7 linked regions of the Homo sapiens genome follow. The protein of the gene in region 4 interacts with the protein of the main gene of each other region in a biochemical or structural test. Each region holds a gene or a part of one and is shown on either strand. Other genes may lie near its edges.

The links.
Region 1: the proteins of XPO1 (region 4) and SMURF2 form a complex in vitro, tested with the Homo sapiens proteins (one study listed by BioGRID).
Region 2: the proteins of XPO1 (region 4) and PXN interact in a test that uses a peptide from one of them, tested with the Homo sapiens proteins (one study listed by BioGRID).
Region 3: the proteins of XPO1 (region 4) and NPM1 interact in a test that uses a peptide from one of them, tested with the Homo sapiens proteins (one study listed by BioGRID).
Region 5: the proteins of XPO1 (region 4) and HNF4A form a complex in vitro, tested with the Homo sapiens proteins (one study listed by BioGRID).
Region 6: the proteins of XPO1 (region 4) and LRPPRC form a complex in vitro, tested with the Homo sapiens proteins (one study listed by BioGRID and IntAct).
Region 7: the proteins of XPO1 (region 4) and NUP214 form a complex in vitro, tested with the Homo sapiens proteins (one study listed by BioGRID).

Annotation. Positions count from the first base shown.
Region 1 is NC_000017.11:64,554,308-64,557,807, reverse strand, and holds part of SMURF2 (E3 ubiquitin-protein ligase SMURF2), read left to right. Parts: intron 1-85; coding exon 86-200; intron 201-1,809; coding exon 1,810-1,988; intron 1,989-2,814; coding exon 2,815-2,952; intron 2,953-3,500. UniProt on the Homo sapiens protein: E3 ubiquitin-protein ligase which accepts ubiquitin from an E2 ubiquitin-conjugating enzyme in the form of a thioester and then directly transfers the ubiquitin to targeted substrates.
Region 2 is NC_000012.12:120,217,231-120,220,730, reverse strand, and holds part of PXN (paxillin), read left to right. Parts: exon of another isoform or gene 1-639; coding exon 640-1,524; intron 1,525-3,500. UniProt on the Homo sapiens protein: Cytoskeletal protein involved in actin-membrane attachment at sites of cell adhesion to the extracellular matrix (focal adhesion). Recruits other proteins such as TRIM15 to focal adhesion.
Region 3 is NC_000005.10:171,401,349-171,404,848, reverse strand, and holds part of NPM1 (nucleophosmin), read right to left. Parts: intron 1-3,500. UniProt on the Homo sapiens protein: Involved in diverse cellular processes such as ribosome biogenesis, centrosome duplication, protein chaperoning, histone assembly, cell proliferation, and regulation of tumor suppressors p53/TP53 and ARF.
Region 4 is NC_000002.12:61,531,857-61,535,356, forward strand, and holds part of XPO1 (exportin-1), read right to left. Parts: intron 2,823-3,500; exon of another isoform or gene 2,567-2,822; intron 2,048-2,566; 5' UTR 2,042-2,047; coding exon 1,916-2,041; intron 1-1,915. UniProt on the Homo sapiens protein: Mediates the nuclear export of cellular proteins (cargos) bearing a leucine-rich nuclear export signal (NES) and of RNAs.
Region 5 is NC_000020.11:44,425,199-44,428,698, reverse strand, and holds part of HNF4A (hepatocyte nuclear factor 4-alpha), read right to left. Parts: intron 365-3,500; coding exon 212-364; intron 1-211. UniProt on the Homo sapiens protein: Transcriptional regulator which controls the expression of hepatic genes during the transition of endodermal cells to hepatic progenitor cells, facilitating the recruitment of RNA pol II to the promoters of target genes. Activates the transcription of CYP2C38.
Region 6 is NC_000002.12:43,943,990-43,947,489, reverse strand, and holds part of LRPPRC (leucine-rich PPR motif-containing protein, mitochondrial precursor), read left to right. Parts: intron 1-119; coding exon 120-233; intron 234-1,246; coding exon 1,247-1,377; intron 1,378-2,072; coding exon 2,073-2,158; intron 2,159-3,500. UniProt on the Homo sapiens protein: May play a role in RNA metabolism in both nuclei and mitochondria. In the nucleus binds to HNRPA1-associated poly(A) mRNAs and is part of nmRNP complexes at late stages of mRNA maturation which are possibly associated with nuclear mRNA export.
Region 7 is NC_000009.12:131,128,586-131,132,085, reverse strand, and holds part of NUP214 (nuclear pore complex protein Nup214), read right to left. Parts: intron 2,808-3,500; coding exon 2,609-2,807; intron 1,321-2,608; coding exon 1,250-1,320; intron 1-1,249. UniProt on the Homo sapiens protein: Part of the nuclear pore complex. Has a critical role in nucleocytoplasmic transport.

The sequences.
Region 1 (3,500 bases), on a different chromosome or scaffold from region 4:
TTGCTAAAATGATTAGTTAATGACATATCTTAATAAAAATGTATACATTAACAAAAAAATTCCTTGGTCATATCTTGTTTTCTAGGGAATGGTTGTATCTCTTGTCACATGAAATGTTGAATCCATACTATGGCCTCTTCCAGTATTCAAGAGATGATATTTATACATTGCAGATCAATCCTGATTCTGCAGTTAATCCGGTATGATTTGAAGTTATGATGTGAATTGTGACCAATAATGCTTTTCATGTTTACATGTTAATGTAGTTTATTATATAGAAATTATTTGTCCTTGTCTTAGTTGTGCCCTTTGACTCAGCAATTCCCCTTCTATAAAATTTTCCCAAGCAGATGATTATGGATATATGCACCAATTTGGAAACAGGGATGTTTATTGTTTATAGTAGCACTCAACTGAAAACAACATAGTTGTCTTCAGGAGCGGGGACTGATTAAATTATGACATGAAGCAGAATAATGCAAATGATTAAAGGCATAGGTTCTGGAATTAGAAAGACGTGTCGTGGTCTCATCACTTACTAGCTTTGTGACCTTTCAGGGCAAGTTCATGGACTTAAGCTTCAGTTTTGTCATTGCTAATAAATACATTTGTACCTCAAAGAGGGGTTATGAGAATGAAATGGGACCCTGCACATTAAGCACTTAGCACAGTGCTGTATGTTATTCACTCTACAACTCTATCAACTACATTACTAAGCACTCAACAGAAGTTAGCAGTTATTACTAATGTATTGTTTTTATATTGTCTTTCCATATAAGGGCATACTATACAGCCACTAAAATGATAATGTGGGATAATAGTTAATGATATGGAAAGATGGTGTTTATGATGTGTTAAGTGAAACGAAGGTTATCAAATAGTATAATGCAACTTTGGTAAATATATATGTTTGTGTGCGTGCGCGTGTGTTACTTTTAAAAAAGAAACAAAAACAAGATAAAAGGTTTAAAGACGAGCTTAAAAGATTACTTAGTAAATAGAGAGGTAAAAGAATTTAAAAATACAAACATCTAACAAAACAATCTGTGACGAAAGACCAAATATATATAAAAGGGTAGAAATGTTAGATTTGTTTCAAGAAGTTATTTAGGGAGGATTTTGAGGTGAAGGTTCTTTTTGGAGGGCCCACTACTGCCCCTGTAGTAACAATAGCCCAGACTCATTGACTGCTTATAACATGCCAGGTCCAGTTCCATGGGTTTCAAACATCACCTCATTTTACTCCTCATAGAGATGCTTTTTAGATACTGTTATTATCCTCATATTTCCAGATGTGGACAGTTAGTCTTACGGGGGTTAATTTGTCCATATGCCATTGACTGGCAGAATCGTGATTCTAATTCAAGTCTGACACCAAGTCTGTGCTCTTAAATCTATGGTGTTTTGATGTTTAATTTCTGGTTAGGTCAAGGAAGTAGGGAGGTTTAGGATTGAAAGATTTTTTTTCATGACAAAGGGCTCAGCAGGAGGTGAGAGAAGGAAGAGAAAAGGATCTGCAAGTAGTTGAATGAAGCTCCGGGACCATAGTTTGGACTTAATTTCTAAAAGATAAAATTTACAAAATGACTGGCCCCTGCGAGAAGGGCATATTACCCTGTGTAATATGCTGTTCTCTGGTGATCTAGAGACTCTGGAGCATGCCCTAGAGAAATACTCCCTCCTGACTCTATTGAAGAGTAAAAATTTTATGCTTATTCTCAAAAAGATTAATGTTGCTGAAATATTTCATTTTTATTAAAATTTTCCTGGGTAGTGCCTAACGAGTATATATACTGTTTTCAATTTCAGGAACATTTATCCTATTTCCACTTTGTTGGACGAATAATGGGAATGGCTGTGTTTCATGGACATTATATTGATGGTGGTTTCACATTGCCTTTTTATAAGCAATTGCTTGGGAAGTCAATTACCTTGGATGACATGGAGTTAGTAGATCCGGATCTTCACAACAGTTTAGTGTGGATACTGTATGTATTGAGTCTTCTATCTCTTCATTATAAACTCTGAGCTTTAAAAAAAAATATGTTTCAAAACTGATGTACTTAAAAAAATTACACAGAAAATATTGAGTGGTTATTTGAGTGATAGGATCGCATATGATTTCCCCCTTTCCTGTAGCTTCTTTATACATTTCAAATTCCTTAAACTTAGCAAGTGTTACTACTTTAAAAAGGAAAAAACAACTAGTATATTTCTATTTTTAAAAGTACTTTATATAATTGTTTCCTCAATGTGATACAAATTCTGTTCCAAACCTGCGTGTGTTAGAATAGCAAATTCTTGGCTGCTGTTGCTTTTAATGAAGTGGCGATTGTTGGAACCGTACTTTTAGAATAAGAACTAATTGTTGAATTTAAGCTAAGAACTGATTCTGTTTTGCAAGAGGTCATTATTTTGTGAAGATACACTGGCAATGTTTATTTTTTATAAAGTATACAGTAGCTTTCTCACTAGGGATACACAGGCACTTGGCCCCTTGGAGTACAGTACCGAGTAGGGCTCTTCAGAATGCCAAATGTAACTGAAATTGTCCTATATTGGTGGTTCTAGCAAGGCCCAGCTTTGACCAAGGCTCTTTCTCATTACTCAGGAAGTTAAATGTTTTCTGTGTTTATGAAGGTTAAAGCTCTTTGACTTTTCTGTCCAGAAAGAACTAGGTGGTATGGAAGCAGAATCTGACCTCACATTTGTTATATTATAAAATGATCTTAGTTTTATCTCACCAATTAATACATCTATAGGGTCTGTATTTTAGGTTTCCCAGTTACATATCTTTTCCTCTTTCCTATCCAGTGAGAATGATATTACAGGTGTTTTGGACCATACCTTCTGTGTTGAACATAATGCATATGGTGAAATTATTCAGCATGAACTTAAACCAAATGGCAAAAGTATCCCTGTTAATGAAGAAAATAAAAAAGAATATGTCAGGTAAACACTCCTGTGTTCTCAAGGCTGAATTTTTTAAAATGTTCTAGAATGTTAGTATGAACAAACTTAAATATTTAGATAGTACTACTTAGTGTTACAAAATCCGCTTCAGGAGAATTTAGTGGCTTATTTAGAACAGACATTTTATTATTTCTCACAATTCCATGGGTCAGGAAATTGGGCAAAAGAACAACATGGATGACAACACTGGTGTTCCACAAGATGTCAGCTAGGCCTGCAACACCAAGATGGCCTCTTCACTCATAACTAGGATAACTCAAATGGCTGAGGGCTAGCTGGCATGGCTGTTGACTGGGGTCACTGTCTGGGGCCTTGTTCTCATTGTTGGCTGAGTTCCTTGGTTCTCCCTATGTGATATCAAAGGCCATTCCCTCTCTCCATGACCACTCCCTCTCCCCATAGCCACTCCCTCCCCCCATAGCCACTCTCTCTCCCAACAAGATAGCCAGACTTCTTATGGGGTGGCCAGCTTTCTAAAGCTCAAAAGCAGAAGCTGCTAGATCTTTTTAAGGCCTAAGCCTGGTCCT
Region 2 (3,500 bases), on a different chromosome or scaffold from region 4:
CCTTGCGTGCTATAGTTCCAGCTCCAGGCCAGTGGTTCTGAGCAGCCATGGTCAGAAGCAAGTAAGTTGGATTCAGGGCCTGGCCTGAGGGAGCTGTGCCCCGGTGCTTTTAAGGCTGCCGTTTTCTCAGACAGCCTGTGTCCTGATGCCAGGAGAAGCAGCAGTGGTTTTAGTCAGATCCCTGGAGCAAGGATGTGGAAGACGTAGAGGACTTGGGGTGTAGGAAAGCTGGGATTGTCCGGAGGGACATGGCCGAGTTGGGCCAGTGTCCGAGGCGGGTTCAGCAGCCCCTGGGGCTGGCTCTCCCTCCATTTGTGCCTGGGGCTGTCTTCCGTAGCCACCTGGCTCCCCATTTGTCCACCTTACCGTGGTCTTTTCTTTCTCATACCCTCCCTGGGTGGCTCCACAGGCACGGCTTGGTGGCTGCTTTCTCTTGCTTGGGTTTGGTGAGGGCTAAGCACGCAAAGCCCAGGGAAGCTTTTTTGGGGTCTGGGTCTCCTTCAAGGGTCAGTCCTGTGCGTCAGCTTTGCAGCCACCTTGGTCAGCCCTAAGGCCGAGCCCACCGCCTGCAAGGTGCAGCCGTCCTCACTCCCCTCATCTCTCTCTCTCCTCTCCCCTCTGCATTTCTCTCTTCTCCAGACCAGCTCCTCCACTGTGGCTCTGAGTGCCCCGGGGCTGTCCAGCTCTGCTCCGTCCTCATACTGCTCCCTTCCTCCTTCTCCTCCTCCCATGCCATCTGTATTTCTGCCACCCACCACTATACCCTCCCCTCGAGGCCAGGGCCACACTCCGGAGTTCCCTTGTACTGAGCAGAGTGGACGAGGCCTTCTACCTCCTGTAGCCCCCAGCTGGCTTGATTTGGCTGGTCTTGGGGTGATGCCTGACACCTTCAACTCAAGGTCTCCCTCTGTGGAGGGTTCTCTGTGGGCAGTGGGCACAGAGAGTCAGGGTCGAGATTGGAGGCACCTGCCGACCATCACAAGTGAGCTCTCTGGGGCTCCCCGCTGCCACACTGTACCCTGTGCTGGGAGCACAGCTCTCCAAGAGCCTGGGGAGCCCCAGGGGCCACCAGCCAGCCCTTCGTGCCCAGAGGAGGCCTTGGCTGCCACATGGGAGCAGCCATGGGCTTCGGAGGTATTCGGGCCTGAGAGAATGCCCCCCTCTGGAGCTGCTCGAAGCTTCCAAGAAGTAACAGAGCCAGCTGTAGTGGCAGTGGACCGGCAGGCCATCTTCCCAGATACCTGGACTCTCACGGAGGAACATGGCCTACAGCAGGAGAGGCCAAGGCCAGAGCCAGGGAGGCTGGGAAGCAGCTCCCCTGCCTCAGTTACCACGGAGCAGCTAGGTGCAAAGATGACCGAGAGGGGAAGTGTGGCCAGGCCAACCCAGGGACCTGAAACCCCAAGGAGCCCAGAGGGCACCACGGAAGCTGCCACCCAGGACGGGAAGGAACAGCCAGAGCTTCCATGTGCCATGGCCATGGGCACACCCAGCACCACGGAGAGGATTTCCACCTCTGGCCAGGCAGGCACCAGCTCGCATGGCTGCTGGGCATGGCCATTGGCGGGTCTGAGTGTGGGCCGCTCCTCGCTAACTGCATGCAGCCTCCCACTCTGCGCATGTCTGCTTGGGCAGAAAATGCTGAGACACTGTGGCCGGACCTGACAGTCAGCACTTGGCAGTGGGCTCTGTGGACCCAGCATTTCTCATAGCGTCAACCCACCTCTTGCCTTGTTGAGGCTTTTTCCTTTCAGATGAGCTGTCCTTGACATTCTGATGTGGTGAAATGGTTAGCAGCATGGACTTTGGAACCAGATAGACCTAGATACAAACCACATGTCTAACACTTGCTACCTCTGTGACCTTGGGCAACCCCCTCCCTCAGCCTCAGTTTTCTCATCTGTAAAGTGGGGAGAATTTCCATCAAGATTGTCCGGAGACCTAAATGAGATAATTCCTGGAAAGTGTTTAGAACACAGCATGTGGTCCCTCAATAGGCCGTGGCTGACAGTACTTTTATTACTTGCTTTTTGCTTAAATTAAAACTTTATGCCGGGCCAGGTGTGGTGGCTCACGCCTGTAATCCCAGCACTTTGGGAGGCCGAGGCGGGCGGATCACCTGAGGTTGGGAGTTCGAGGCCAGCCTGACCAACATGGAGAAACCCCATCTCTACTAAAGATACAAAAAGATTAGCTGGGCATGGTGGCGCATGCCTGTAATCCCAGCTACTCAGGAGGCTGAGGCAGGAGAATCACTTGAACCCAGGACGCAGAGGTTGCGGTGAGCCAAGATCATACCATTGCACTCCAGCCTGGGCAACAAGAGTGAAACTTGGTCTCAAAAAACAAAAACAAAACAACAACAACAACAAAAAACTTTATGCCTCACCCTGGCACAGTAGCTTATACCTGTAATCCTAGCACTTTGGGAGGCTGAGGCAAGAGGATCGCTTGAGCCCAGGAGTTTGAGACCAGCCTAGGCAACACAGTGAAACCCTGTCTCTACAAAAAATTAAAGATTAGCTGGGCGTGGTTGCACATGCCTATAGTCCCAGCTGCTGGGGAGGCTAAAGCAGGAGGATGGCTTTAGCCCAGGAGTTTGAGGCTGCAGTGAGTTGTGATCGCACCACTGCATTCAGCCTGAGCAACAGATCAAGACACTGTCTCAAAAAAAAAAAAAAAAAAAAATCCCCCAAGCTTTATGCCTCTTTGGAAAACAAAACGAAACAACCAAAAACCCCCAAAACACTACCAACAAGTATAATAGCATAATATAATATTAGCATAATAATATAAATAAGAAAAAAAAAACTAGTTAAAAAAGTTCCTGGCTAGCTGAGCACGGTGGCTCACACCTGTATTCCCAGCACTTTGGGAGGCCGAGGCAGGCAGATCACGAGGTCAGGAGTTTGAGACCAGCCGAACCAACATGATGAAACCCCATCTCTACTAAAAAAAAAAACAAAAAACAACAACAACAAAAATTAGCCAGGCGTGGTGGTGCATGCCTTTAATCCCAGCTACTCAGGAGGCTGAGGCAGGAGAATCTCTTGAACCCAGGAGGCGGAGGTTGCAGTGAGACCAGATCGCGCCACTGCATTCCAGCCTGGGCGACAGAGCGAGACTCTGTCCCCCCCCAAAAAAAAGTTCCTGGAAGGAAACACTTTTTCTATTATAAATTAAAAAAAAGAAAAAAGAAAAAGCCGTATGCCTTGTCAAGGGCATGCACTTACATCCTCTGGAATAATTCTTGTGCAAACCCTGTGCGGTAAGCCAAGAAAATCTTGTGGTTCCATTTTAAGGAAGGGGAAGCTGAGGCCCATGGCAATTAAGTGTCTTGCCCAAGGTCAGTGGCCAACTTAGAGGTGAATGCTGGGTCAGAGGTCTCGCTCGCAGCCTGTGCTTCTGGAGCCAGTCCGATCTGCCCCCTCCCCTTGCCTCTACCCACCTCCACCGGTCCAATCTGCCCCCTCCCCGTGCCTCCACCCACCTCCGCTTGG
Region 3 (3,500 bases), on a different chromosome or scaffold from region 4:
AATGGTGCCCAGGCTGGAGTGCAGTGGCGTGATCTCGGCTCACTACAACCTACACCTCCCAGCCGCCTGCCTTGGCCTCCCAAAGTGCCGAGATTGCAGCCTCTGCCCGGCCGCCACCCCGTCTGGGAAGTGAGGAGTGTCTCTGCCTGGCCGCCCATCGTCTGGAATGTGAGGAGCCCCTCTGCCTGGCTGCCCAGTCTGGAAAGTGAGGAGCGTCTCCGCCCGGCCGCCATCCCATCTAGGAAGTGAGGAGCGCCTCTTCCCAGCCGCCATCACATCTAGGAAGTGAGGAGCGTCTCTGCCCGGCCGCCCATCGTCTGAGATGTGGGGAGCGCCTCTGCCCCGCCGCCCCATCTGGGATGTGAGGAGCGCCTCTGCCCGGCCGAGACCCCGTCTGGGAGGTGAGGAGCGTCTCTGCCTGGCCGCCCCGTCTGAGAAGTGAGGAGACCCTCTGCCTGGCAACCACCCCGTCTGAGAAGTGAGGAGCCCCTCCGCCCGGCAGCTGCCCCGTCTGAGAAGTGAGGAGCCTCTCCGCCCGGCAGCCACCCCATCTGGGAAGTGAGGAGCATCTCCGCCCAGCAGCCACCCCGTCCGGGAGGGAGGTGGGGGGGGGTCAACCCCCCGCCCGGCCAGCCGCCCTATCTGGGAGGGAGGTGGGGGGTCAGCCCCCCCGACCGGCCAGCCGTGCCATCCGGGAGGGAGGTGGGGGGGTCAGCCCCCCACCTGGCCAGCCGTGCCGTCCGGGAGGGAGGTGGGGGGGTCAGCCCCCCGCCCGGCCAGCCGCCCCGTCCGGGAGGTGAGGGTTGCCTCTGCCCGGCCGCCCCTACTGGGAAGTGAGGAGCCCCTCAGCCCGGCCAGCCACCCCGTCCGGGAGATGGGGGGGTCAGCCCCCCCACCCGGCCAGCCGCCCCGTCCGGGAGGGAGGTGGGGGGGTAAGCCCCCCGCCTGGCCGGCCGCCCCGTCCGGGAGGGAGGTGGGGGGGTCAGCCCTCCGCCCGGCCAGCCGCCCCGTCTGGGAGGTGAGGGGCGCCTCTGCCCGGCCGCCCCTACTGGGAAGTGAGGAGCCCCTCTGCCCGGCCAGCCGCCCCGTCCGGGAGGGAGGTGGGGGGGTCAGCCCCCCGCCCGGCCGGCCGCCCTGTCCGGGAGGGAGGTGGGGGGGTCAGCCCCCCGCCTGGCCAGCCGCCCCGTCCGGGAGGGAGGTGGGGGGGGTCAGCCCCCCTGCCCGGCCAGCCGCCCCGTCCGGGAGGTGAGGGGCGCCTCTGCCCAGCCGCCCCTACTGGGAAGTGAGGAGCCCCTCTGCCCGGCCACCACCCCGTCTGGGAGGTGTGCCCAACAGCTCATTGAGAACGGGCCAGGATGACGATGGCAGCTTTGTGGAATAGAAAGGCAGGAAAGGTGGGGAAAAGATTGAGAAATCGGATGGTTGCCGTGTCTGTGTAGAAAGAAGTAGACATGGGAGACTTTTCATTTTGTTCTGCACTAAGAAAAATTCCTCTGCCTTGGGATCCTGTTGATCTGTGACCTTACCCCCAACCCTGTGCTCTCTGAAACATGTGCTGTGTCCACTCAGGGTTAAATGGATTAAGGGCGGTGCAAGATGTGCTTTGTTAAACAGATGCTTGAAGGCAGCATGCTCGTTAAGAGTCATCACCAATCCCTAATCTCAAGTAATCAGGTACACAAACACTGCGGAAGGCCGCAGGGTCCTCTGCCTAGGAAAACCAGAGACCTTTGTTCACTTGTTTATCTGCTGACCTTCCCTCCACTATTGTCCCATGACCCTGCCAAATCCCCCTCTGTGAGAAACACCCAAGAATTATCAATAAAAAAATAAATTAAAAAAAAAATAAAAATAAAAAATAAATAAATAAATAAATAAAATGAAAAAAAAAAAAAAGAACTACCTGAGATTGGGTAATTTATGAAGAAAAGAGGTTTAATTGACTTACAGTGCTGTAGGCTGTATAGGAAGCATGGCTAGGAGGCCACAGGAAATTTACAATCATGGCAGAAGGCAAAGGGGAAGCAAGGCACATCTTACATGGCAGCAGAAGAGAGAGAGCACAAAGGGGGAGGTGCTACACACTTTCAAACAACCAGATCTCATGAGAATTCACTATCAACAGAACAGCAAGAGGGAAATCTACCCCATGATCCAATTACCTCCCACCAGGCCCCTCTTCCAACACGTGGGGATTACAATTTGAGATGAGATGTGGGTGGGGACACAAAGCCAGACCATATCAGGTATTAGGTTGATTCCATGTCTTTGCTATTGTGAATAGTGCTGCAGTGAATATTTGTGTGCATGTATCTTTATGGTAGAATGATTTATATTCCTTTGGGAATGTAATGGGATTGCTGGGTCAAATGGTAGTTCTGTTTTTAGCTCTTTGAGGAATCGCCACTCTGCTTTCCACAATGGTTGAACTAATTTACACTCCCACCAAGAGTGTGTAAGCATTCCCTTTTTTCTGCAACCTTGCCAGCAGCTGTTGTTTTTTGAGTTTTTAATAATAGCTATTCTGACTGGTGTGAGATGGTATCTCATTGTGGTTTCGATTTGCATTTCTCTAATCAGTGATATTGAGCTGTTTTTCATATGCTTTTTGGCCACTTGTATGTCTTTTGAAAAGTGTCTGTTTATGTCCTTTGCCCACTTTTTAGTGGGGTTGTTTGTATGGAGGTTCATCATTAGTTACATTTAGTCAATAGATTATATGTGTTGTAGAATATGAAATTTATTCGTTTAAATTGTAAATAAACTATTTCATCAGGTTAAAAAAAAAAAAAAAAGGAAATCAGAAAATCCCTAAGAATAAAGCAAGAAAGTCACTGTAGTCTGATGCCTGGCGCCCACCCCAGACCATTTTTATGACAATCTCCATAAGTAGAGCACAAGTACTGGGGTTCCTTTAAACTTTTTTTCCTTTAAATTCCATTTTCTGCAGGGAAGTGGGTAGGGTCAGGAATGAGATCAATACACCCTGTCTAGGCCCAAATGTTCTACTTCAAGCTAACATGCAGCCAAGGTTGAGAACTTCTACTCTATGCAGACATACCTTTCAACAAAGATTCCTTACAGGAAACAACTATTGACTTCACAATCACAAAAAATTCAGGCCAGGCGTGGTGGCTCACACACTTTGAGAGGCCCAGGAGGGCGGATCACCTGCAGTCAGGGGTTTGAGACCAGCCTGGCCAACATATAGAGTGAAACCCCATCTCTACTCAAAAATACAAAAATACGCTGGGCCTGGTGGCACGCGCATGTAGTCCCAGCTACTTGGGAAGCTGAGGCAGGAGAATCGCTTGAACCCGGGAAGTGAAGGTTGCAGTAAGCCGAGATCACGCAACTCTAACCCAGACTGAGTGACAAAGTGAGGGTCCATCTCTTTCAAAAAAGTCTATTGGCTCCCCCCGCCCCACCACCTTACATTTAGTATGTTTGTGTGTGTGTGTGTACCTACAACACACAACAAGCTGATTTTTTTTTTTGGA
Region 4 (3,500 bases):
ATATACTGATCAAAACGCCCTAAAAGTATAAACCTGGGCTAACAAGCTTACAGAATCACTGCAAGAGTAATTTTTTCTACTTTTAGCGTTTCCATGGACCTTTTTCAAGTTTCTACTATAGTAAAAGCAGTACTGTTGCATTTCATAAGGGAATGGAAACATTTATACATGATGCTTTTTGGACTACTATAAAAGATAGTACTGTATCCACCTTATATATTTTCAGAAAGTGTAATGGCACTCAGGTTTAGGTTTTTTTATTTTATTTTATTTATTTATTTTTATTTTTGAGACGAAGTCTCATGCCGTTGCCCAGGCTGGAGTGCAGTGGCGCAACCTCGGCTCACTGCAAGCTCCGCCTCCCGGGTTCACGCCATTCTCCTGCCTCAGCCTCCCGAGTAGCTGGGACTACAGGCGCCCGCCACCACGCCTGGCTAATTTTTTGTGTTTTTAGTAGAGACGGGGTTTCACCGTGTTAGCCAGGATGGTCTCGATCTCCTGACCTCGTCATCCGCCGGCGTCGGCCTCTCAAAGTGCTGGGATTACAGGCGTGAGCCACCGCGCCCGGCCGGCACTCAGTTTCTTAATTATGCAAATATAAATATCTTGACAATATAAGTAACCTCCCATCTACTAGCTGAACATTTATCTAACCAGAAATCTACTGTTCTGGCAACAAAACTACCATAAAAGATTTCTGGCCAGGCGCGGTGGCTCATGCCTGTCATCTCCACACTTTGGGAGGCCAAGGCAGGCGGATCACGAGGTCAGGAGATGGAGACCATCCTGGCCAATATGATGAAACCCATCTCTACTAAAATACAAAAAATTAGCTGGGCATGGTGGCGCGTCTGTAGTCCCAGCTACTCGGGAGGCTAAGGCAGGTGAATTGCTTGAAAACCTGGGAGGCAGAGGTTGCAGTGAGCCGAGACTGTGCCACTGCACTCAGGCCTGGTGACAGAGCAAGACTCCATCTGAAAAAAAAAAAAGATTTCTGACCCAACTGCAAAACTTTTTACTCATTCAAAAACATGTTTGGGCCAGCACGCGGTGGCTCATGCCTGTAATCCCAGCACTTTGGGAGGCCGAGTCAGGTGGATCACCTGAGGTCAGGAGTTCCAAGACCAGCCTGGCCAACACGGTGAAACCCCATCTCTACTAAAAATACAAAAATTAGCCAGGCATGGTGGCGTGTGCCTGTAATCCCAGCTACCAGGGAGGCTGAGGCAAGACAATCGCTTGAACCCAGGAGGCAGGGGTTGCAGTGAGCTGAGATAGCGCCACTGCACTCCTGCCTGGACCACAGAGCGAGACTGTCTCAAAAAAAAGTTTGGCCCCACAGGTAAAAAATCAAGTTTTTTTTCTTGTGACATATACAATTTAAAATTGTACACACATTTCTGTTTCACCTTTTAGTTGGGTTCAAAAAAACCAAAAATCTTAAACTGATCAAAATTTGGTTTATGTTTAAGATAATTCCCTACATTAACAGTACCACTTTGAAAAGTGCACAAAATTCAACTAACATAAAAATACTTGGTATTCCTGTTTTTATTTAAACAAACATATCTGTGAAGTACTTCTGTAAATGTTTTAAAAGTAGAAGAATCGTATTAGTGCCAAACATATTAAGTATATATAAAAGTACAGAGAACCTTTAATACCTACAAAGTATTTAATAACATTTGGCTCTTAAGGACAAAACAAGTATAATATTCCAAAACAACCCACTCTAACCATGTCAAACATGCAATTTCTTTCTCCAAACCAATTTTCATTATGGTTAATACAGAATTCCAAATTAATGCAAACTATGGAATATCTTTTTTAAAGGTGATAATTTAAAATTTTATTCTAAACCCAACAACTCTGTTACACTGTCATAATGTTATAAAGTTTTGGTTGGCTACTTTACCTGGGCTCCTTCTCCATGGTATAAGCAATTCACCACATTATCTAATAAGTTGATATCCAGTTTTTGGCTGAAATCAAGCAGCTGACGAGCTGCATGGTCTGCTAACATTGTCATAATTGCTGGCATAGATTACTGAAAATAAAGAAAAAAAATTGAAGCTGCCTATCAAGTTTTGGTATTATCAAAAACTTCCTACAAGTTATTTTACTTCAACCATGTTATTACAAATATTTTAATGAATACTTTAGAGACTTTAATTACAGAAAACTGAGATAGTAAAAGCAAGTAACAAAAGCTGAAATTACTTAGCTATTTGATAATTACATAAATTATTATGGTCCATTCAACTTTTCTAGTGTTTAGTTTATACACCAGGAAGACTTTCCTATTCTACTAACATTTATAAAGTATGCTAACCTATTATTTAAACGCATCCACTATTAGGATTTTATGGTCCTAAAACGTGATACAGTTCAGTATCTTGATGTCAAAACTTTTTAAGCAAGTAGGATTAAGTTCAAGTGAATGTGATTTTCTTTTCTTCCCAAGTAGGGTCTTCTGAATAACTCAGTAAAAGCTCACTTCACATTATCTTAACTTTATAAAAATAATGCTATAAAGACAGAATGGGCCGAGCGTGGTGGCTCACACCTGTAATCCCAGCACTTTGGGAGGCCGAGGTGGGCGAATCACTTGAGGTCAGGAGTTCCAGACCAGCCTGGCCAACATGGCAAAACCCCGTCTCTACTAAAAATACAAAAATCAGCCAGGCATGGAGGCGGGCACCTGTAATCCCAGCTACTTGGGAAGCTGAGGCAGGAGAACTGCTTGAACCCAGGAGACGGAGTTTGCAGTAAGCCGAGATGCACCACCACACTCTAGCCTGGGCAAGAGAATGAGACTCCATCTCAAAAACAAACAAACAAAGACAGAATGATGTTAAAAATTAAAATGTGGATATACAGTAATTCCTATTGTCTACAGCAATGGTTAGCAGGAACCACAAGTCTAACATATCTTGGTATAAATGCCCTTAGCCTCTACAGAAATAACTTAGCTTCTACACTCAAACCATTCAAATTGTTTCAACCCTCAATGAATTGGGGGATTGAAATAAAGCTACAAACATATTTACTGAATATATGATCTAGGAAAAAAAACTTTATGGGCAATATGCCTAACAAGATTTTTTAAATTCCAGGTATTCATTGGCAAGGTAAAAGCTGTAAAAGCTTGCCCATTCCCAAATAAAAAAGAATTCTAACAGAAAAATGAGCTACTTCGCCTAAATATGCACTGGTTAAAACCTACTAGTTCATATGCAGTGCTATCCTTTTAAGAGGATTCTACTCTAAGATGCTGGCACACATCCACTTTTTTGTTGCCCAGAATTATAAAATATATCTTTCCTCTGCTTTTCTTCAAAGCCAATGCCACTCAAACCTAATTGGTTAAGTCAGTAGTCCTTAACCTTTTTGGGGGTCTAAGATGCCTGAGACTCTGAGGAACCAATAGCTCTAACCCAGTTTTTAAAAACTCACGATTTTGTATACAATTATAGAGGATTCAGGACATCCTGAAAGCC
Region 5 (3,500 bases), on a different chromosome or scaffold from region 4:
ATCCCAACAATGGCTTCATTCAGTAAAGGCTGTCAGTCACCTTACTGAATAAACAGCCTCAACAAATGGACAATCTTGCCCTTTATTCCCTACCCTGGAACCCAGAAAACTGTTGCATCCTGGTTCTACCTTCTAGACTCCACTTTCTCCTGCCTCCTGTCTTAAGCCCCATCCTCACCCTTTGCAAGGTAAAATCCCAGAGTTTGCCCACCTGCCTGTCCCCTGGGTCGGGGCCACTCACACATCTGTCCGTTGCTGAGGTGAGTGGGCATTGTGTTGGCAACGATGACGTTGGTTCCCATATGTTCCTGCATCAGGTGAGGGTGCAGGGGGTGGTGGGCATGGGGTGCATCGCTGGGGGACCCTGCAGGTAGAGAAGGTCGATCAGGATGGAGAGTCTGGGATGCAGACCTCAGGCCTTGGGACGCCATCTTCCTCAGGCGTGGCCAATCAACCAGCCCATCCAATATTGGCAGTGCCTGTTGGGTACCTATTCCTGGGTTAGTAAACTAGGGTGTACCATTCCCATCTATAGACTTCATGAGGGTGTTAAGAGGACCCCAAAAAACCAAGAGAACAAAAGTGAGTTGAAAGGAACAAGGTGCATATAAGGAAGCTCTGAGATCACGTAAATGTTCTAATGAGTAGTGTATTGGTCACATAGTAACATAATGGATGTAATCAATGGCTCTCAAAGCTCCTTGGAGTGCAAGTCCTTCAACCATTTGGTCCCGCCTCACCTTTCAGCCTCATCCCCCACATCTCTGCTGCAGCCAACTGACCTACTTATAGCATCTATGTGTCCCCTGTGTTTTTCTATCTCTATGCTTCTGCTCACGTTGTTGCTTCTGTCAGAGATGTTTTTCCACCCCAAACCTGTTCCATGTCCATAAGCCCAAATCCCAGCTCATATATTTCCTCTCTTTAGAAGCCTCTCCTGATTCTCCTTCCTTGGATTTCTCATAGTAATTTGTCTGTAACACAACTTTTAGGAACAACCACTTCTTCTGTCTATGAGCATTACAATTTCAGAGGTATTTTTCTTCTTTCTTTGAGGGCCTAGCAGATTGTCTGGAACACAGTAACCGCTTCAAACATATGTCAGGGAGTAAAAATACCACATGGGATATGGTTTAATAATAGCCTATGGTGAGTAATATGACGATGATGGAATTTCAACGCTTGCAAGCGATCTCTACAGTACATCTATTTCAGTGATAAATAACAATTGTTGATAATTAACAATTATCACGTGCCAGGTACTGTTGTATAGCACTTCCCATGTTTCACATAATTTAATCCTCACAGCAATCCTATAGGATGGATACTATTATTAGCCCATTCTACAGATGAGACAACTGAGCCCAGAGAGCTCTTAATTATTTGGCAACAGACCACAGGCTCCTGATCCTGATCTCAATGACACCTGATTCATAATAACCCCATGTTCACAGGGTCAAAGTGAGAATGAAATGAGCTATCACATAACAGCGATTCCCAACTGGGGATGATTTTGGCCCATCAGGAGACATTTGACAATATCCAAAGACATTTTTGGTTGTCACCACTGGAGAAGTGCTACTGGCACCTTATGGGTACAGGACAGAGATGCAGCTGAACAATGTACAGGACAGCCCCACACAACAAAGAATTGTCCAGTTCCAAGTATCAATAGTACCAATGTTGAGAAACCTCACCCTCGCCTTGTCATCTTCAGTCACTGAAACACCTCCAAAATCTCGAATTCAACATCCCCACTTTGACTTCACCTCATGTCCTTCCAGCTCCCGTAATCTAATACCATCGCTGCAAAAATTCTTCAGCCCTACTGAGACTGTCAATTCACTGACACTCTCTTTTCACTATCACCCCATCCTTTTGTTGTTGTTGTTGAGACAGAGCCTTGTTCTGTCGCCCACGCTGGAGTGCAATGTCATGATCTCAGCTCACTTCAACCTCCATCTCCCGGGTTCAAGTGATTGTCCTGCCTCAGCCTCCCGAGTAGCTGGGATTACAGGTGCATGCCACCATGTCTGGCTAATTTTTTTTTGTATTTTTAGTAGAGATGGTGTTTTGCTGTGTTGCCAGGTTGGTCTTGAACTCCTAGCCTCAAGTGATCCACCCGCCTCGGCCTCCCAAAGTGCTAGGATTACAGGTGTGAGCCACCGTGCCCGGCCTCTATCTTTATTTCTTTTTGAGTGCAGCCCAGACTCCATGACCTATCATTCTAATCACTCCCTTGCAGTCATCCTAACTCCTTCATACTCCCCTTCATAGTCAAACCATTTCAAAGGGTTATCTACTCTATCTCCACCTTCCCACTCACTCTCTTTGGAGCACTCTCCAATCTGGTTTCCACTCTCCCAGCTCTCTGATGCTGCTTTCAACACAATTGCCAAGAGCCTCCAGCTGTCAATCCAATGGACCCTTTCCTCTCTCTTCCCCTCCTCTCTTCACCTCTCCTTTCTTCCCCGCTTCTTTCTGTTTCTCTGTAGAGTTTAACACCATTAAACACTCTGTCCTTCAAACACGCTCTTCTCTTGGATTCTGGAATTGCCCTGGTTTTCTCCTACCCCTCTGGCCAGTCTTCTTCCCTTCCCTCCATGGCTCCATCTTCCCCCTGATTCCACAGAGCTGCCTTTAATCTTGTGCTTGAGCAACAGACTCATACATTCAACAGCCTCCTTGATAACTTGGATTTGTAATAGTCATCTCATGCTTAATGAAAGTCCACAATGAGGCTGGGCATGGTGGCTCACACCTGTAATCCCAGCACTTTGAGAGGCCAAGTCGGAAGGATTGCTTAAGGCTAGGAGTTCAAGACCAGCCTGGGCAACATAGTGAGACCTTGTCTCTATAAAAAATAAGAATGAAGAATTAGCTGGGTGTGGTGGCACGCACCTGTAGTCCCAGCTACTTGAAAGGCTGGGGTAGGAGGATCTCTTGAGCCTGGAAGGTTGAGGCTACAGTGAACTATGATTGCGCCACTGCACTCCAGCCTGGGTGGCAGAGAGAGATCTCGTCTCAAAAAAAAAAAAAAAAGGAAAAAAGAAAAGAGGGTCCACAATGGATCTCTGAGGTCACCCCTCACTACCACCCCCAGACCCAGTGTCTTGTTGTTTATTCTGTCCTCCTCATTTCAGTAAATTACTCCATCGTCATTTCTGCTACTCAAAGCAAAAATGTAGACTTTGTCCTTGACTCTTCCTCTTTCTCTCACTCCCTATGTCTGATCAATCAGCAAATCCTGTGGGTGTGGGCTCTTCCTCCAAATAGATGATCAGGTTTATCTTCACTGCTCCATTGCCAGGGTCCAAGCCTCCATCATCCATCACATGATTGGAGACAGTGACATTCTCAGGAATCTGCAATTCACTCTCTACCCAACAGAGTGGTTTGTTTGAAGCATTAGTCTGGGATGGGTGTGGCGGCTCACACCTGTCATTCCAGCACTTTGGGAGACTGAGGTGGGTGATCACTTGAGGTCAGGAGTTTGAGAC
Region 6 (3,500 bases), about 18 Mb from region 4:
ATAGCATTTATGACATTTAGGAAGGTAGAAAGGAAAGTCAGTTTAAAGGGAAGAGTGACAAAAGGCATACTATATTTCCTTTTTCAGGAAATTTTTCTTTTCTTTTTTCTTTTCTGTAGACTGTGCAACTTACATCATCTGAATTGGAGTCCACACTTGAAACACTAAAAGCTGAAAATCAACCTATAAGAGATGTCCTAAAGCAACTCATATTAGTGCTTTGTTCAGAAGAGGTAACATTTGTTTTAATATTTAAATATTATTAAGGCAAAAAATTCTTGGTAACAATAAGAAAAACCAAATATAATATTTATGATTTTTACAATTGATCGTTATATGTCAGGCTTGTAAAGAATGCAATTAAATGAAAGGTTAACTAATTTCAGCTACACCTTGAATGGCATGTTTTCTGGTTGCTGTAGTTTGTTTACGATAATCTGCAAAGTGAATGATAGTAACAGCTGTGATAGGTTTATCATACATGCCAAATGTCCTTTCAAGCCATGGCTCCGGTCTCTTATATCTAGATTGTCAAGCAACTGATACACGCAGTAGTCATTTGCAAGTCAAATATTACTAGGTTGTTAATGCAGGGATTGAAATTCCATTTTCCTGCTGGAAAAAAGCTCTTTCTGAGATAAAGGGTCCCTTGCCTTTTTTCAGCGGGCATCCAGCTGTACTTTGTGTTCATTTTAGTGTATGTCTGCAATTTGTGGGATATCACTAGACTATTTTTCACTTTCTAGTTCAATATAATTGAGCCATAAACTTGTAGTTTTAGGGAAAAAATATCATGACTAACTTTATGATTATAATCTGCTACTGTTAAATTCTAAAATATTTCTTCATATTACTTGGATACTAAACTAGACTGAGAAACTTTTCAATGATACATATTTCTGCATCCTGAAATTAGACTGTGATTAGGATTTGATTTGGGAATTACTTAATCTGGAAGTCTTTTTTAAATAATACCATACACAAAGCCTAAAACATCAAATTTGGCATAAATAATGGCCTATTTTATATTACAGATAACACATCTTTTAACCCCTACACGTGTAAGACTTGCCCACTTCTTAGAGGTGAATAAAAATATCAAGGGGCAGAGTCAGGTTGTTAACATGAAACCATTTATTTTTAAAGTACTATTAACTTTTTCTAAACTCTGAACAGTAAAGCTAAAAATGTGACATTTTTACCTTCACACTGATTTCTTCTTTTTCACATCTATGCTGTATTTTAGAATATGCAAAAAGCCCTTGAATTGAAAGCAAAATATGAATCCGACATGGTTACTGGTGGCTATGCAGCTTTAATAAATTTATGCTGTCGACATGATAAAGTAGAAGATGCCTTGAACTTGAAAGAAGAATTGTGAGTACCCTGGCACTGAAACAAGTTGTCAACATTTATTCTGCTCTACAGACCTTGATAGATTATCTAGATGGAATATTACTCTCTTATATAATGTCATTTTTAAAAATTCTTTTGTTGTCAGTGTTTTTGAAATTTCGTATTATACGGCTCTTTAATTAATTGTGGCTTATGTTCAGCAAGGTGTCTTTGTTTAAGTATGATAAGACATTCTAGTCCTTAGAACCAAAGGTTTTTTTCCATTGATTATATATCATCACAACAGTGGTGATGGTGGTAACTGTTTTAAGAGGCTTGATAACATTTCCCTTTCAATATTGTAGTGTAAATAAAATTCTATCCATTTCTCAGGTACCTTTGGCTTCCTATCCTGTTAGATTTTTCAAGTAAAAATGTCAAGTATTCGTGATGAAGGTTAGAATCACTTAAAGCCAAAGAGTTTCTTCATAAGTATCCTTTGCAGATGGAGTGATGCAATATATATGTAGTGTTGGGCTTTTACTTCACTAGTCACTTTGAATATAATTTCGTGTGAACTTGTATATGGCTTCAAAAAGAAATCCTAACTGAAGCGTAGAGGCCAACATTAGTTCAGGTCTTCTGATGAGCTTTTGAAAAGTGATTAAATGGATGTTGCTGTTCTTTTAGCAGTTAATTGACTTTTAAAACAATATAAATGTGGCTTTAATTTTTAGTGACCGCTTAGATTCATCTGCTGTCCTTGACACCGGCAAGTATGTAGGCCTTGTAAGAGTATTGGCAAAGCATGGCAAGCTCCAAGGTAAGCCTCAGCACATAAAGGAAATATGTGATGCAAGTATCTTGCCACTGGAATAACATGTGAATTGATATTAATGGATATCATGTCCTGCAAAGTGCTTGAACACTTTGCATAGAAATTTGCATGTGAATCCAACCAGAGCTACATGGACAGTGTAGGCCATTAGTTTTAATGGATTGGCAAGCTTGTCATTTACATTTGCACAGCTCAGTGCTTTTTGCATTTCTGCAGCTAGTTTTTATTAGCATTGCTGTTTGGATTGAGTTTGAAGATCATGACTTATGGCACAATTTGCTTATGTGCCTGCACTAATGGCTTTGTTTTTGCTTAAGAAGGTCTGAAGGCTGAACGTAAAACCTATAAACGTAAAACCTATAAACATAACCTAATATATGCGCCTGAATTTTGCAGTAGTCTTTGCCTTACTTTTTAATAACATTAACAAAATATATACTTTAAAGTTTTTATTTTAATTAAGGTTTTTATTTAATGGTTCATGGAAAAAGCATAGCTGATTACACAGCTGATTTGCATACTCAAATTTTCTCGTTGAGATAATGCTAAGCCTAATAAAATTAATTACACTTGATAATACATTCATACTATTTTCTTGTTTCTTAACTTTCTGATTTGGCTTTATTTTGAAATTTCCTTTTTAGCCTTCCTCTTTTCCTTTGATTTTCAGAAAAGATTGTTTTAATTTTATTATAGGGAAAAATGTATGGAGAAAATCATTTATTAGAACATTGAATGTTTTCCTAGGACGCCTTTCTAACTCTTTCTAAGGATTAGCCTATTTTTTTAAAATCACTTTTTGTAAAGTGGTCAAAACATTTTGTCTGTGTAATAATTAAGAACAACATTATAAAAATGCACTTATTCCATATCCTAAAATGTTTGTTTCTGCCTTCCTAATGAAGCTTAATGAATCTAATGTATTAACATGCAGTCTTTTGGAAAGCTTTCATTGGCTCTGCTTGGCTAATTAGTATCGACATAGCAAACAGGCCCTATCGGTATCAGACCATTAGTCTGGCTGTATATACAGTGTAAACACATCTTTATTATCTGGCCTCCTGACAAGCCATCTGCTGAAGAAACAATGGTGTGATTTAGCAGATGTTAGCTCTGAACGATAAAAGCATCCATTTAGGAGGATCTTACAGCTATAGGGCAGACCATACAGGGTTATGTGGTACAGAGTGGGCACATAGTCCCTATCTATAATTTGTAGTCAAAGTTGCAGGGAAATGATAAAACCATGCTATTGTGGATTTATAATTGTAGTCTCGTTTAGAAATGCAAGTAGTAATTAACTTGAAATCGGCATTATACACTAGAA
Region 7 (3,500 bases), on a different chromosome or scaffold from region 4:
CATGTTCAGATATAGGTAATGAGAGTAGTCAATGCAACACCATTTGCAGCAGCAACGCCACTAGCACTGATGCAGACAATCATCAATAGTGGAATAAGGCTGGGCGAGGTGGCTCATGTCTGTAATCCCAGCACTTTGGAAGGCCAAGGTGGGCACACTGCTTGAGCCCAGGAGTTTGAGACCAGCCTGGGCAACATGGCAAAACCCTATCTCTACAAAAAATACAAAAATTAGCTGTGCATGGTGGCAAGTGCCTGTAGTCTCAGCTACCCGGGAGGCTGAAGTGGAAGGATCACCTGAGCCCAGGAGGCTGAGGCTGCAGTGAACCATTACGTTATCACACCATTGCACCCCAGCCTGGGCAACAGAGCAAGACCATCTCTCAAAAAAAAATAATAATAAATAAATAAAAAATTAAGGCAAACAGCAAAGCAAGAAAATTTAAAAAATTGCATTATCTTTTTACAGGTTAGTGTCCTAAAAGATTATGTACCAAATTTCAGGTAACTTTTGGTAATAACAAATAAGAAACATAACCTTAACCTTAAACCTATACCACCTACATTCACCACTCTGCTCCCCTCCTCGCCAGAGAACAGTCTTGAGGAGGAAGGCACAAGAAAGGCCTTAGCACCACCTGTGAATCCCTCCTTCGTGTCCAGGCTCAATAGACATATGGGGGTTCCTTGCAACTCAATTGATATTGAAGGATATTTGTGAACATTATTTCAAGAAATTCACAGGGAGGATGACAGAGTGCACATGCAACAAGAGTATCCATTTTCTTTGGTGCCCATAGTTAGACAAACAGACCTTTAAAGACAGACTCAGTTAAAAGACAAATACTGTGCTTTAACCCAGAGTGATTCTGCATTATCATCATAGTTTTTTCACTAACTCTTTTCCCTTGAGCTGTTTTTATGGAATGGACTGAAAAAGGTGGGGAACAGCGCATAGCGTATGATCACATTTTACATAAAAACAACAACAAAAAAAAAGCAGCTACCCATAGACTATTTGTATAACATCCAGAAAAGTATGGAAGGCTATCTACTCAACACAACATAGTGGGTGCCTCTGGAAGAAGGACTATGGGAAAGGGAAGAGTTCCACTCTTCATTCACTGATGGATTTGTTACAATGAGTATAAATTACTTTTTAATAGGAAAAACAAGAAAGATACTCCCAAACCACCCCCAAAAAAGTGGGCAACTTAAGAAAAATTCTGAAGTTCAAGATAAGAACTTACAGGAAGATACTGGACCACAGTTCCATTCTGTTTTCCCACTGCCAGCTGCTTTCCTTTGGGGCTCCAGCACACTGAGCAAAGACAGTATTACCAAATGAAAACAAGAAAATGGAGCAAACCAATAAGATCTATCACACACAGCTAATTATCAATTCTCATTCCTCTGTCAGTCCATGGAAGATTGTAGGATCATCTCTATCAGGCAAAGTGGAAAAAAGTAAAATCATTTTAACGATATAAGCCAATTGATTTATCACTGGGCTATTGAATTGAAAGCTAAAAATGCTTTTTCAATAGATTACTGCCCAGAAAGCTGCAAAATACAGAAAACTCTGTAGTCTTTACATAAGACAAGGAGAACAGAGAAGGTTTCCAAATACCAAGAAATCACTGGCCGGGCACAGTGGCTCATGCCTGTAATCCCAGCACTTTGGGAGGATGAGACGGACGGATCACTTGAGGTCAGAAGTTCAAGACCAGCCTGGCCAACATGGTGAAACCCCGTCTCTACTAAAATATACAAAAATTAGCTGGGCATGGTGGCAGGCACCTGTAATCCCAACTACTCTGGAGTCTGAGGCAAGAGAATTGCTTGAACCCAGCAGGTGGAGGTTGCAGTGAGCTGAGATCGCGCCACTGCACTCCAGCCTGGGCGACAGAGCAAGACTCTGTCTCAAAAAAAAAACAAAAAAAAAAAAACAAAACCAGAAATCATTCTCCTGCTCCCATTTAATATTTAAAATGCTTTTCCGCCCAAAGGTACAAATGACTTTCAGAGTACCACCGTTACAGATCCAGAAACAATTATTCCCAAAAAACACTTCTAAACCAGCTGTACCAAAATATTTCTCCAGAAATCCCAAGTACATTCAGGTTAAATTATGTATGCTGTTTGGCTTCAAGGACATTAACTATGGGTATAAAGAATACTCTCAGCCGGGCACAGTGCCTCACACCTGTAATCCTAGCATATGCGGGGTGGAGGAGGGCAGATCACTTGAGGTCAGGAGTTCAAGACCAGCCTGGCCAACATGGTGAAACCTTGTCTCTACAAAAAATACAAAAATTAGCTGGGCATGGTGGCGCATGTCTATAATCCCAGCTATTTGGGTGGCCGAGGCACGAGAATTGCTTGAACCCAGGAGGTGGAGGTTGCAGTGGCTGAGATGATGCCACTGTACTCCAGCCTGGGCGACACAGTGAGACTGTCTCAAAAAAGAATACCTTCCATCCTTAACCTCCCTCGTCATGAAAAAAAAAACCAAAACACAAAAAGCTATCCACTTTCACTTCTAGAAATCAATTCTTAAGTAGATGACCATGATTGTATGCTACAGTGTGAAAGCCTTTATTACTCACCAGAGGTTACTGCTACCGTGGAAGGAAGAGTTGCACATACTTTCACTGTTTCCGTGACTTGCAGGACAGCAATACTACCATCAGCCAGACAAACTGCCACCATGGAGGGGACAGTGGGGTTCCACTTCATATCAATCACCATGCCTCCTGCATCTTTCAAAAGCTTATGATAGGCAAATGGGCGTTTTTGCTGTTTAGCCTTTTAAAACAAATATGCAAAAGTGAAATAAGTTAACAAATAGTAAATGCAGAAACATTTAATATTCAATGGAAATTACTGAATACACAAGGTATCTCAAATCAGTTTATTTTTCTCCATAACCATAAAAAAAGATTGTTTTATGCATCAATCTATTTGCTATAGACAATTTCAACACAACTTTGAAAATGGCAATCAATTATTCTAACATGCTTAGGGGGACTCTCAGAAGGGGAATGCACAATTGCAAAATAACCAATAAATAGCAGACAATAGATTAAAATCTTGGCTCTGCTTCTTAATAATGTTGGGACCTTGGACAGTTACTTAAACTCTGAGCCTGTTTCTCTACCTATAAAATGAAGATAATAGTACCTACTACATAAGGCTGTGGTAGGCATGAACGAGGGACAAGGCATATAAAGCACTTAGTACAGAGTCTAACACACACAGTCAGTATAAACACTCACTATTATTATCATTCTTAAACTGCTTGGAATGGAAGAACATCCAAAATGTAGGAACTTTTGACATTATGTATTCATCTATGACTTTGGGCAAGTCACCTAAGCCTCCTGATAACAACTTAGGGCAGATGGCGTTATGAAAGAATTTCTTGAAGTCCCTTCTGTCTCAAAGATCTATGATTCTATAATTAAGGATTTTTTTTTAACCCATATTTTAATCTAGAGA